Linked DNA regions of Homo sapiens: region 1 is linked to region 2. A link means that fine-mapping ties the variant in region 2 to the expression of a gene that starts in the linked region. Tissue or cell type: monocytes. Region 2 holds a variant in brackets; the other region holds the start of a gene. All regions are shown on one strand. Distances are between the middles of the regions.

Region 1 (4,328 bases), 60 kb before region 2:
ACCTTGGCCTGGAGCTGCTCAAAGGCTTCCCGGAGTTGTGTCCGTTTCCTCTGGGCTTCCTCCATCTGAGTCAGGGCCTTGGTGAGGCCAATTTTGATGGCCTCTACGTGCTCCCTGTAGGTGGCCTTCAGCTCTTTCCATTGTTCCTTAGCTGCAATTGCCTTCTGTCCTGAGATGAGCCACCAGGAATGAGTACATGAGTGAGGGTGGCCTGCTAGCCTGCCTCCCTGCAACACTGGGCCTCCTTCCCATCAGCCAAATGGGAGACCTAACTGAAATCCTCCTTCCTTCCCCACTCAGGTCAGCTGCTACTACAATCCCCTGCCTACTCACGGCTCGTGTCTTCAGAAGCCAAGGGGTCGAGACCCTTAGCAGTGTCCTCCTGAGCCAGGATGTTCTGCAGGAAATCCGCTACCTGAAGCTGGCTGCAGAGCAGCTTGTCTTTCTTCTGAGAGTCCTGCTCAGAGGGAGGGCAGAGACAGGGAACATCCTTACCTCCTTACAGGTTTCCTTAAGTCTGCTCTCTGCCAGTGCTGCCCTGTATCTCAGTAAGAGGAGCCAGGACCAGACCCTGGCTTCTGAAAGGCTCGCTCTCATCTTGTACATACCACCACAAACTCAACCAGGATCTTGGCTGGCAGTTCTGCCTCCTCCTGCAGGCCTACAGGTTCCAAGATGCCTGCCACCTCAGCCAGGACCCTGGAGGGGCAAGGAAACACAGGAAATTGCAGTTTCTTGTGGTGCTAGTTCTACAGTTCGTGTGTGTACACAAACAAATGTGGATGTGTATATCAGTATATATAGTATTGAGAGTCTTGCCTTGACCAGAGTTTACACAAGGGCCTGAAGGGTCCACAGCCTGCAACCAGGAATGGCGTGCATGGAGGGCACACGGTGGTAATACGTGCCAAAAGGAAAATCAGCAGGGCTAGTGGATAAGGAGTTTGAGAAAAGAGCTGAAATTTTAAATAGGGAGTGTCTCACTGAAGAGAAATCATTTGAGTCAAGATGTGAAGGAAGCCAGGGAGATATGCAAGGAAGGGGAAGAATGCTGGGCCTTGGGATCCCTCCTGGCGCTGAGCACCAGCCTTGGGGCAGAGTCTTGGAATAGCTGAGAAAGGACTCAGGGCAGAGGGCTGGATGCCTCGGTCTACTCTAGGGTTTTTCATTATTAGGGACTGGAGCAATCTACGAAGGGGCAGGGATGGGGATGAGAAGTGACTGGGAATGTGTCGTGTTGGGACAAGAAGACAGAAGTGAAACCGTCTCCTAGAGCACATCCTGTGGATTATGTGGATGTGGGGAGCGGCGAACGGTCCCCCAAAGGCTGTACTCCTGGAGCAGGCAACAGACACCTCAGGAACCTAAGACGGGACTGCGGTGAGGATCACTTCACGGCAGGGTCGAACCTCAACAGCTGTACAGGGTCGAGGGCACCAATCATTACACATAGGGGCCCACAAGGTCCTCCCAGGCCCGGCCCCAGCTGCCACTTAGCCGCAAACACTTACTCTAGGGCTGCAGCTTCCGCCTCTGTCTCCGCTGCCTCCATCTTTCCAGGCGCCGAGTTCAGCTGCCTTCCCACAATCCCTAAGATTACTTTGAAGTCACAGTCGACTTCGCGCCGGGGCAGGCGATTGGCTGCAGAGGTTAGTGGGCGGGCATCAAGGACCATTGTGCGCTCTAATTGGCAGGCGCGGATTCGCTCGTTGGCGGGCCTCGCTGCTTGGCGCAAGCGCGGTTATGGCTAGGCGCGCACGGGCTCTGCGCCTGCGCGCTAGTCCTTACGCGGTGCCAGAGACTATAAGTGGGCTTGAGCTCGACCGCGCGCCTGTGGAAGTTCTTTCTCTACTCGAAAAAGGGAAAGCATTTCCTTGAGTTTGCGTTTTAAGGGAAACTTACAGCATTGACACTTTATTTAAAATATTCACTACTGCTGTAGAAAAAAAAAAACAAAACCCCGAAAAACAGTGGGGCTGTTTCTAAGACGCTGGGAATCAGTAAAGAATAGTGATCCGGGAGATACAGGAAGCAAATGATCTGCGCTCAAAAAGCGAGCTGCTTTCAAAGATATTAGTATTTTATAGATGCGATGCAGGAGAGTGAACTCAAGCAGAGCCCAGCCGATTGCCTGCGTTGGCAAAATAGAACAGATATTCTGGGGAGACCAAGGTAGGTAATGTTCTTTGCAGAGTACAGGAGAAAGATAACTGCTGAGAGAGAACTTGGTATTCATTCAGCTGAGTACTGAGCAGTATGTGTCTCAAGAAACTAGCTAAAAGATTTTTAAAGATACCAGGACATGGCCGGTCGCGGTGGCTCACGTCTGTAATCCCAGCACTTTGTGAGTCTGAGGCAGGTGAATTACGAGGTCAGGAGTTTGAGACCAGCCTGGCCAACATGGTGAAACCCCCGTCTCTACTAAAAGTACAAAAAAAATTAGTTGGGCGTGGTGGTGGGCGCTTGTAATCCCAGCTATTCGGGAGGCTGAGGCAGGAGAATTGCTTGAACCAGGGAGGCTGAGGTTGCAGTTAGCCGAAATTGCGCCACAGCACTACAGCCCTGGTGACAGTGCGAGACTCCGTCTCACAAAAAAAAAAAAATACATATATATATATATATAAATATATATATATGGACATTACAGAGGGTCAGAAATAGTCTCTATTTCCACTAACCAGGCTGGAAAACTTCATAGTCCGTAGGACACTGGACAGAGTACACACAAAAAAGTCTTGATTTGATAGTTGTTTACTAATTATTTAGTAGGCAGTAATTAGTCCTAGCTGATCAGTGCTGTAGTGCCATCTAACTCTTAAAAGTAAGACCCAAATGGATCAAACTTAACAAACCATGACAGATGACAAGACCAAACTTCAGCAGTATTTATAGAAATAGAAAAATGTTCACCAAAGGTGCAATTTACATATGTCATACAAAGAAAAATTACCAAGCTTGCAAAAAGAAAAAAAAAAACACATAATGAGGAGAAAAATCAATTGCTGATCAGAACTGAAGTAATGTTAGAATCAACAGGCAAGGACATTAAAACAGTTATTGTAACTATATCCCATATCTTCAAAAAGATATCAGAACTATAATGAAAAAGGTAAGTGGTGCTAAGGATGTAAAGAAAGTGGAATTCTCATGTTGATGGAAATGTAAACTGGTGCATAGGCTTTGAACGTAGGGTTACCATATGAGTCACAATTTCATTCCTAGTTATATATCCAAGACAAATAAAAACATGGGGACACAAAAGTACACAAACCTCTATAGCAGCATTATTCACAAAAGCTGAAAGGTAAAAACAACCCAAAGGCCCATTAGCTGGTGAGTGAAAATGCATACTTTCATTCAATGAAGTATTAATCAGTAGTAAAGAGAACTTTATTACATGCTAAATAATGGTTACTACATGCTAAAATATGAACCTTGAAAATATACTAAGTGAAAGAAGCTAATTACAAAAGACCACATAATATATTATTTCATTTATGTGAAATGTCTAGATTTGACAAATCTATAGCAACAGAAAGTAAATTTATATAGTGCTTGTCCAGGGCTGGGGATTGGTGGGAATGAGAGGTTGAGAGAGTATGGGGAGGGACTGCAAATGGATATAGTGTTTCTTTTAAAGGGATAAATAAAATGTTCTACACTTCGGTTATGGTGAAGGTTGTACAATTCTATACAGAAAACCGCTAAATTTACACTTTACTGCTGTCATAAAAGCTGTTAAAAAAGTTAATCAAAGACACAAAGCTTGTAATAAAGACCTAAATCAAACTTGTAGAGGTGAACACTACAATGTGATAGATGGAATTAGATGGTATTAATATAGTATGTTACACATTGCAGAATGAAAGTGAAACACAGCTCTAGAGAAACTACCCAAAATCAATCACAACATTAAAAAATGAAAATAAAGTAACATGAACAAATCAATGGTGAGCTGTGAGACAACTTCTAACAGCCTAATAATATACTTGAAAGTGGAGTCTCAGAGAGGCAAGGGGAGAGGACAAGAAAACAAGTAATAAAGACCAAAAAATTTGAAATGTGATGAAAAATATAAATTCATATATTCAAGAAGCTTCACAAATCTCAAACACAAGAAATATTAAGAAAATGACATCAAGTTATACCATAATTGCATAACTCAAAACCATTGATAAAAAATTCTAAAGTAATAAGGGGTGTTGGGGCACATGTTACATAGAAACAAAGATAAGGATTACGGGAAATTTCTTCTTGGAACAATGCAAGCAAGACAGTAGAGTAACATCTTTCAAGTACTGTAAGAATAAAAAAAAGTCAACCTTGAT
Region 2 (4,401 bases):
TAGCATGAAAGATAGTCCCTTTAACAAAGTATTTGGTTTGAGAGGGTTAAATATTGTGCTCTTCTGGAATATTGACTATTTAAGAAAAGGCACTTGAAAAATAGCAGGTGTAAGAAAAACACTTTGATCTTCATACTGTTTCTTAAAAGCAGAAGATGAAGTTACTGTGTGAAAGAAACCCTTTCTATACTTGACATACGTAGCATCCTTTTCCTCAAGGACAAGAAGTTGAAATTAAGAGAATTCGGTACAGACTTTGCTAGAATAACTTATCTTTTAAACCTCCACATATTTTAGTCATGTTTTCACTGTTTAGTATTCCTTGTCCAATTTAGTATATAAGTAACTGACTCTGGTTCTTCTGATCTTCAGTTCTTTATGAGGGTTCCCAAGCCTTATAAAACTTTTCTTAAGTCAATGTAATTCTTGGACCCAACAAGAAACTGAAGAGGATAGAAGTGGAAGTCTTCTGCCCGTACAGGCTCTTTTTGACCTCTCATTTGAACATGTTCTGGCATTCAATACTCTCAAATAAGGAACTCAAAATTACACTGTCCATCTCACTATGAAAGTCGTTGTGAATGTTACTCCAAAATAGGAAGAATATCTTGAAAAGAACACACTGGGAAACAGCATACATCTATAGATTTCAAGACATAGAAGGAAGGATAGCCAAAATGCATTTCAATGATCTTTTCCTTGGTCAACTCCAAGTAAATTTGTTTATATCTATAGCACTGAAAAAAAGTACGGATACTTTTTGCAAACACCAAGAGTTCACTAGGCCATTTAGTCTACGCTCTTCTCTCTTAAATTTTTCTCTAGTCCTAATTAGTTATTCCTTTCAAATGTTTCAGACTTCTAATTATAAGAAATGGCTTTCACCTCATTGCTGGCACTTTAAGGTTTCTGCACTGTGACTCAAGTTACAATTCTTTAAGAAAGCATCCAAAAGGAACTTGCTAGCCAAAATTTCCTTTTCTTCTCTGAATTTCTAATTCTATTTCTACAGTAGACCACGAATGGCATCCTAATCCCAGAGTATTAAAATATTAAGAAAACAAATATCTTCTGTTGCATTTTTCATTATCATTATTTCTGGTCTTCTGCATTTTCAATTCTTTATTCCGGAAGGTGATAAACATACAAACCTCAACCTTGATCATACAGATTTCAAAGCCATTGCTTATTCCTGAATACCAATATCCACAAGCTCTCACTCTACCTCAGTGTCCAGTAAGTACAAATCAACATTTATAACCATTGTTCTGCACATATCCTAGTGATACTGATGAATAATTTGAGGCTGAAGAAACTGTTTTTCTATTTTCTAATTAGATAATTTTATTTTATCTGCTGTCAAATCTATCTGGAGATACACGGGCAGCCTTAAAATACTTATGCTAAGAAAAGTTTCATAAATAATTTGGCAGTTATGTTTTCTATGTTTACTTGTCAATTTTCATGGGCTCAGTAAGTGCAGCTAACAGCTTTTTAAAAATCCTAGCTTTAATATAATATTTTATAGTCACATTAACGGATCAATATACAATTGAAATATTATAAAATCCATGAACAACCATTTACTTACCTACACAATTAATGTTATGTAAATATGTATATTACACACATATGTGTGTGTGTATAT[TTG/T]TGTGTGTGTGTGTGTGTGTGTGTGTGTGTGTGCAGGAAGTAGAGAAAGCCAATGCTACCTAAACCAGAAGCTAATAATTTTAAAAGAAGTAAAGACAAAATGTGTATTCATCCTGTTATTTCCTTTTAAACTCTTGTGAAAATCTTTTCCATCACAGCTCCTTAGTTTTCTGTGCTCTCTTCCAAATAGTAAATAATATTATTTATGGATTGAGGCTGTTTGTGAATATGAGCATTGTGTTGTGGGTCTGATAGTGGAAGTCTGGTTATAATGTCTAAGATCAGGATGTGCATATTTAAAATCTGAACAGTAAAAGAGCAGTCTTTTCTTTAGGGAAATGCTTCTAGTACAGACATGCATAGATTTACAAATCATTACAAAAGAAATACTAAGGTATCAATTCCAGAAATTTTCATTGTGATGTATTACTCATCCTAGTTTTTATTTTTCAAAGTCTTGCATGTCAAGTCTAAACAGAGAACATACATTGTTAGGATGTATCATTTGTAGCAATGGGAAGAATTAGTAAAGAATCTGATATAACCTATACAGTTGAATAAAATCTTTATACCAGTGATAGCAGTACTACAAAAGATTAATATGCTTTGAGCTTCAGTGAATCTAAGGAGAAATATATCAAGTTAAACTCTAAGCAAATAATTTTATAGCAGAAAATAATTTTTGGGAGATCAAAATTGCTATTGAATCAAAACTGCAAATTTTACTATATTATCTACTTCAGTTTGTATTCTAGTGTAAAGTACTTAGATTTTCTTCTTTATTTTAACTCCATATCCAAGAGACATTTACACAGAAGAACTGTATATGAAAGTTTCTTTTTCTTCAGATATGCCAATGTCCTTTTCACCTCAGGGTCTTTGCACATACTGTTATTTTTCTTGAACATTCAGACCATTACATGACTGCCTCCTTTTCATCATTTAGCTCAAATGACACCTCCTGAGGTAGGCCTTTCCTCATTACTCTATTAAACAGGAGATGCCTCTTCACTCTTGTCAGAGAAGATTAAATCTGCATTGCCTTAGAAAACTGCAATGGCTTCCCCTGAAGCAGTTGTCATGCAAGATCATGTTGATTTTCCTCAGGACTCATCCTCACCACCATTTTTCCTTCTAGAATTATAACTAGACTCACGTCTCAGCAGTCCCCTACAGGTGAGGTACAAAGTGTGACCCAGGAGGTATACTACACTCAAAGATAACTACTTGAGTTTTCTAATTTGTACATAAATAGTGAATATGTGTGGGAATGGATAGTGAAAATGTGGGATAGTGGTGGAAGGACTATGAAGTTAGGTCTGGCTGAATTTATTGATATAGGCTCTCTAAGCAGAGATCCTGAATTTAATGTGGCAGCTTGAAGAGATAGGAAGAACTCTAACAATTTGGTTGGTTGGCTGAAACATTGGTCAAAATGGGATTCACAAATGGTATACAGCAATTTGGAAATGCTGGATCTGCCTTGGTTTAATGTAGGAGAGAGGGTTGAATGGCTTAGGAAGATGGGAATGTTAGAGTGAATTTGTGATTCAAGATATATTCACCCTCACTGGAAGCAGCCAGAAGACATACCTTTCATCATGACTGTGGAAAATATATTTGTGAGGGGAACCCTAGCATCCTTGAAGAGTTCTGTGGTCACTCTTGTCTGTAGGCATGCCTTATAATGGGAATCACGCTCACTGAATTGGAAAACCTAAATGCTGTGGAAGTAACTGGATTCTGGGTACAGCAGGGGCCAAGTTGTGGTGCTCAACTACAAAGGCAAGGTTGGCTTGGACAGCAGAGTCAAAGCAGCAGTCAAAATAATCTGACTTTTGCAGACCTATGGTCTCAGCTAGTTGAATATGGTGTTCCTAGAAGTGAAATAGTTAGGAATCCTACTAAATTACTACTTAATTTATGTAAGAAGAAAAGTTGTAGGTCAAGTGCACAAAAATCTAACCTGAATCATAGGGAGGGAGAGTCATAATCCATCAATCAGTTCCCAGATTTGAGCCAGTTTACAGACCCAGAATCCCTTAAATGAAGGGTAGGCTGGTCTAGCCAGGTACGCTGCTAAAACATTTATACTGTTAATCTTTCTCCAAGTCTTCCTCAATAAACTTATGGCCTTCTACCAGAGTAACTCTATATTTGGAAAAAGAAAGTAATCAGATCTTTCAAGGACTACTGGACACTGGCTCTGAACTGTCACTAATTCCAGGAGACCCAAACAGTCACTAAGGTCCATAGTCAGAGTACGGGCTTTGGGAAGTCAGGTGAGCAAAGGTTTAGCGCACGTTTATCTTACAATGGATCCAGCGGCTTCCCAAACCCATCCTTTGGTTATTTATCCAGTTCTGAAATGCATAATTGGAATACATATATTCAGCAGCTGGCTAAATGTCCATATTGGTTTTCTTACCTGTGGACTGAGGACTATTATGGTAAAAAGGGCTAAGTGGAAGCCACTATACCTGCCTAGGAAACCAGGAAAACAAAAATGAAAACAAACACAAATACAAAAGAAAAACTGCAATTCCTAAGGAATTGTCTAGATTAATGCCGCCATCAAGGATTTGAAAGATGTAGGGGTTGTGATCCCCACCACATACCTATGAGGACTGTGCAGAAAAAAAAAGAAAAAGTGGATCTTGGAGAATGACCATTATTTTTGAACACTTAACCAAGTAATGACTTTAATTGCTGCTACTATACCAAATGTGGTTTCATTGCTTGAGCAAACTA

Alleles and levels. Alleles are on the strand shown, and positions count from the first base shown. SD is a standard deviation of normalised expression in the study named.
With allele TTG in place of T in region 2, the expression in monocytes of the gene that starts at base 1,575 in region 1 is higher (large effect, 1.0 SD a copy in Quach 2016).

The links.
Region 1: ZWINT starts here. The variant in region 2 is fine-mapped to the expression of ZWINT in monocytes (Quach 2016, PIP 0.95).

The regions. Positions count from the first base shown.
Region 1 is chr10:56,359,685-56,364,012 of GRCh38, forward strand. It overlaps ZWINT (ZW10 interacting kinetochore protein), which reads right to left and starts at 1,575. Exons shown (of 9, transcript NM_007057.4): 1 at 1,512-1,575; 2 at 609-699; 3 at 334-457; 4 at 3-169. The coding sequence starts at 1,552. LOC124902546 (a long non-coding RNA gene) reads left to right here and starts at 1,775. Exons shown (of 2, transcript XR_007062372.1): 1 at 1,775-2,172. RefSeq lists enhancers at 1-659, 1-545, 1,285-2,024, 1,373-1,542 and a silencer at 1,633-1,842.
Region 2 is chr10:56,419,478-56,423,878 of GRCh38, forward strand. No RefSeq gene overlaps it. Among named protein-coding and RNA genes, the nearest start is that of ZWINT, 60 kb to the left of the region's middle. The variant TTG/T (reference allele first, on the strand shown) is at 1,649.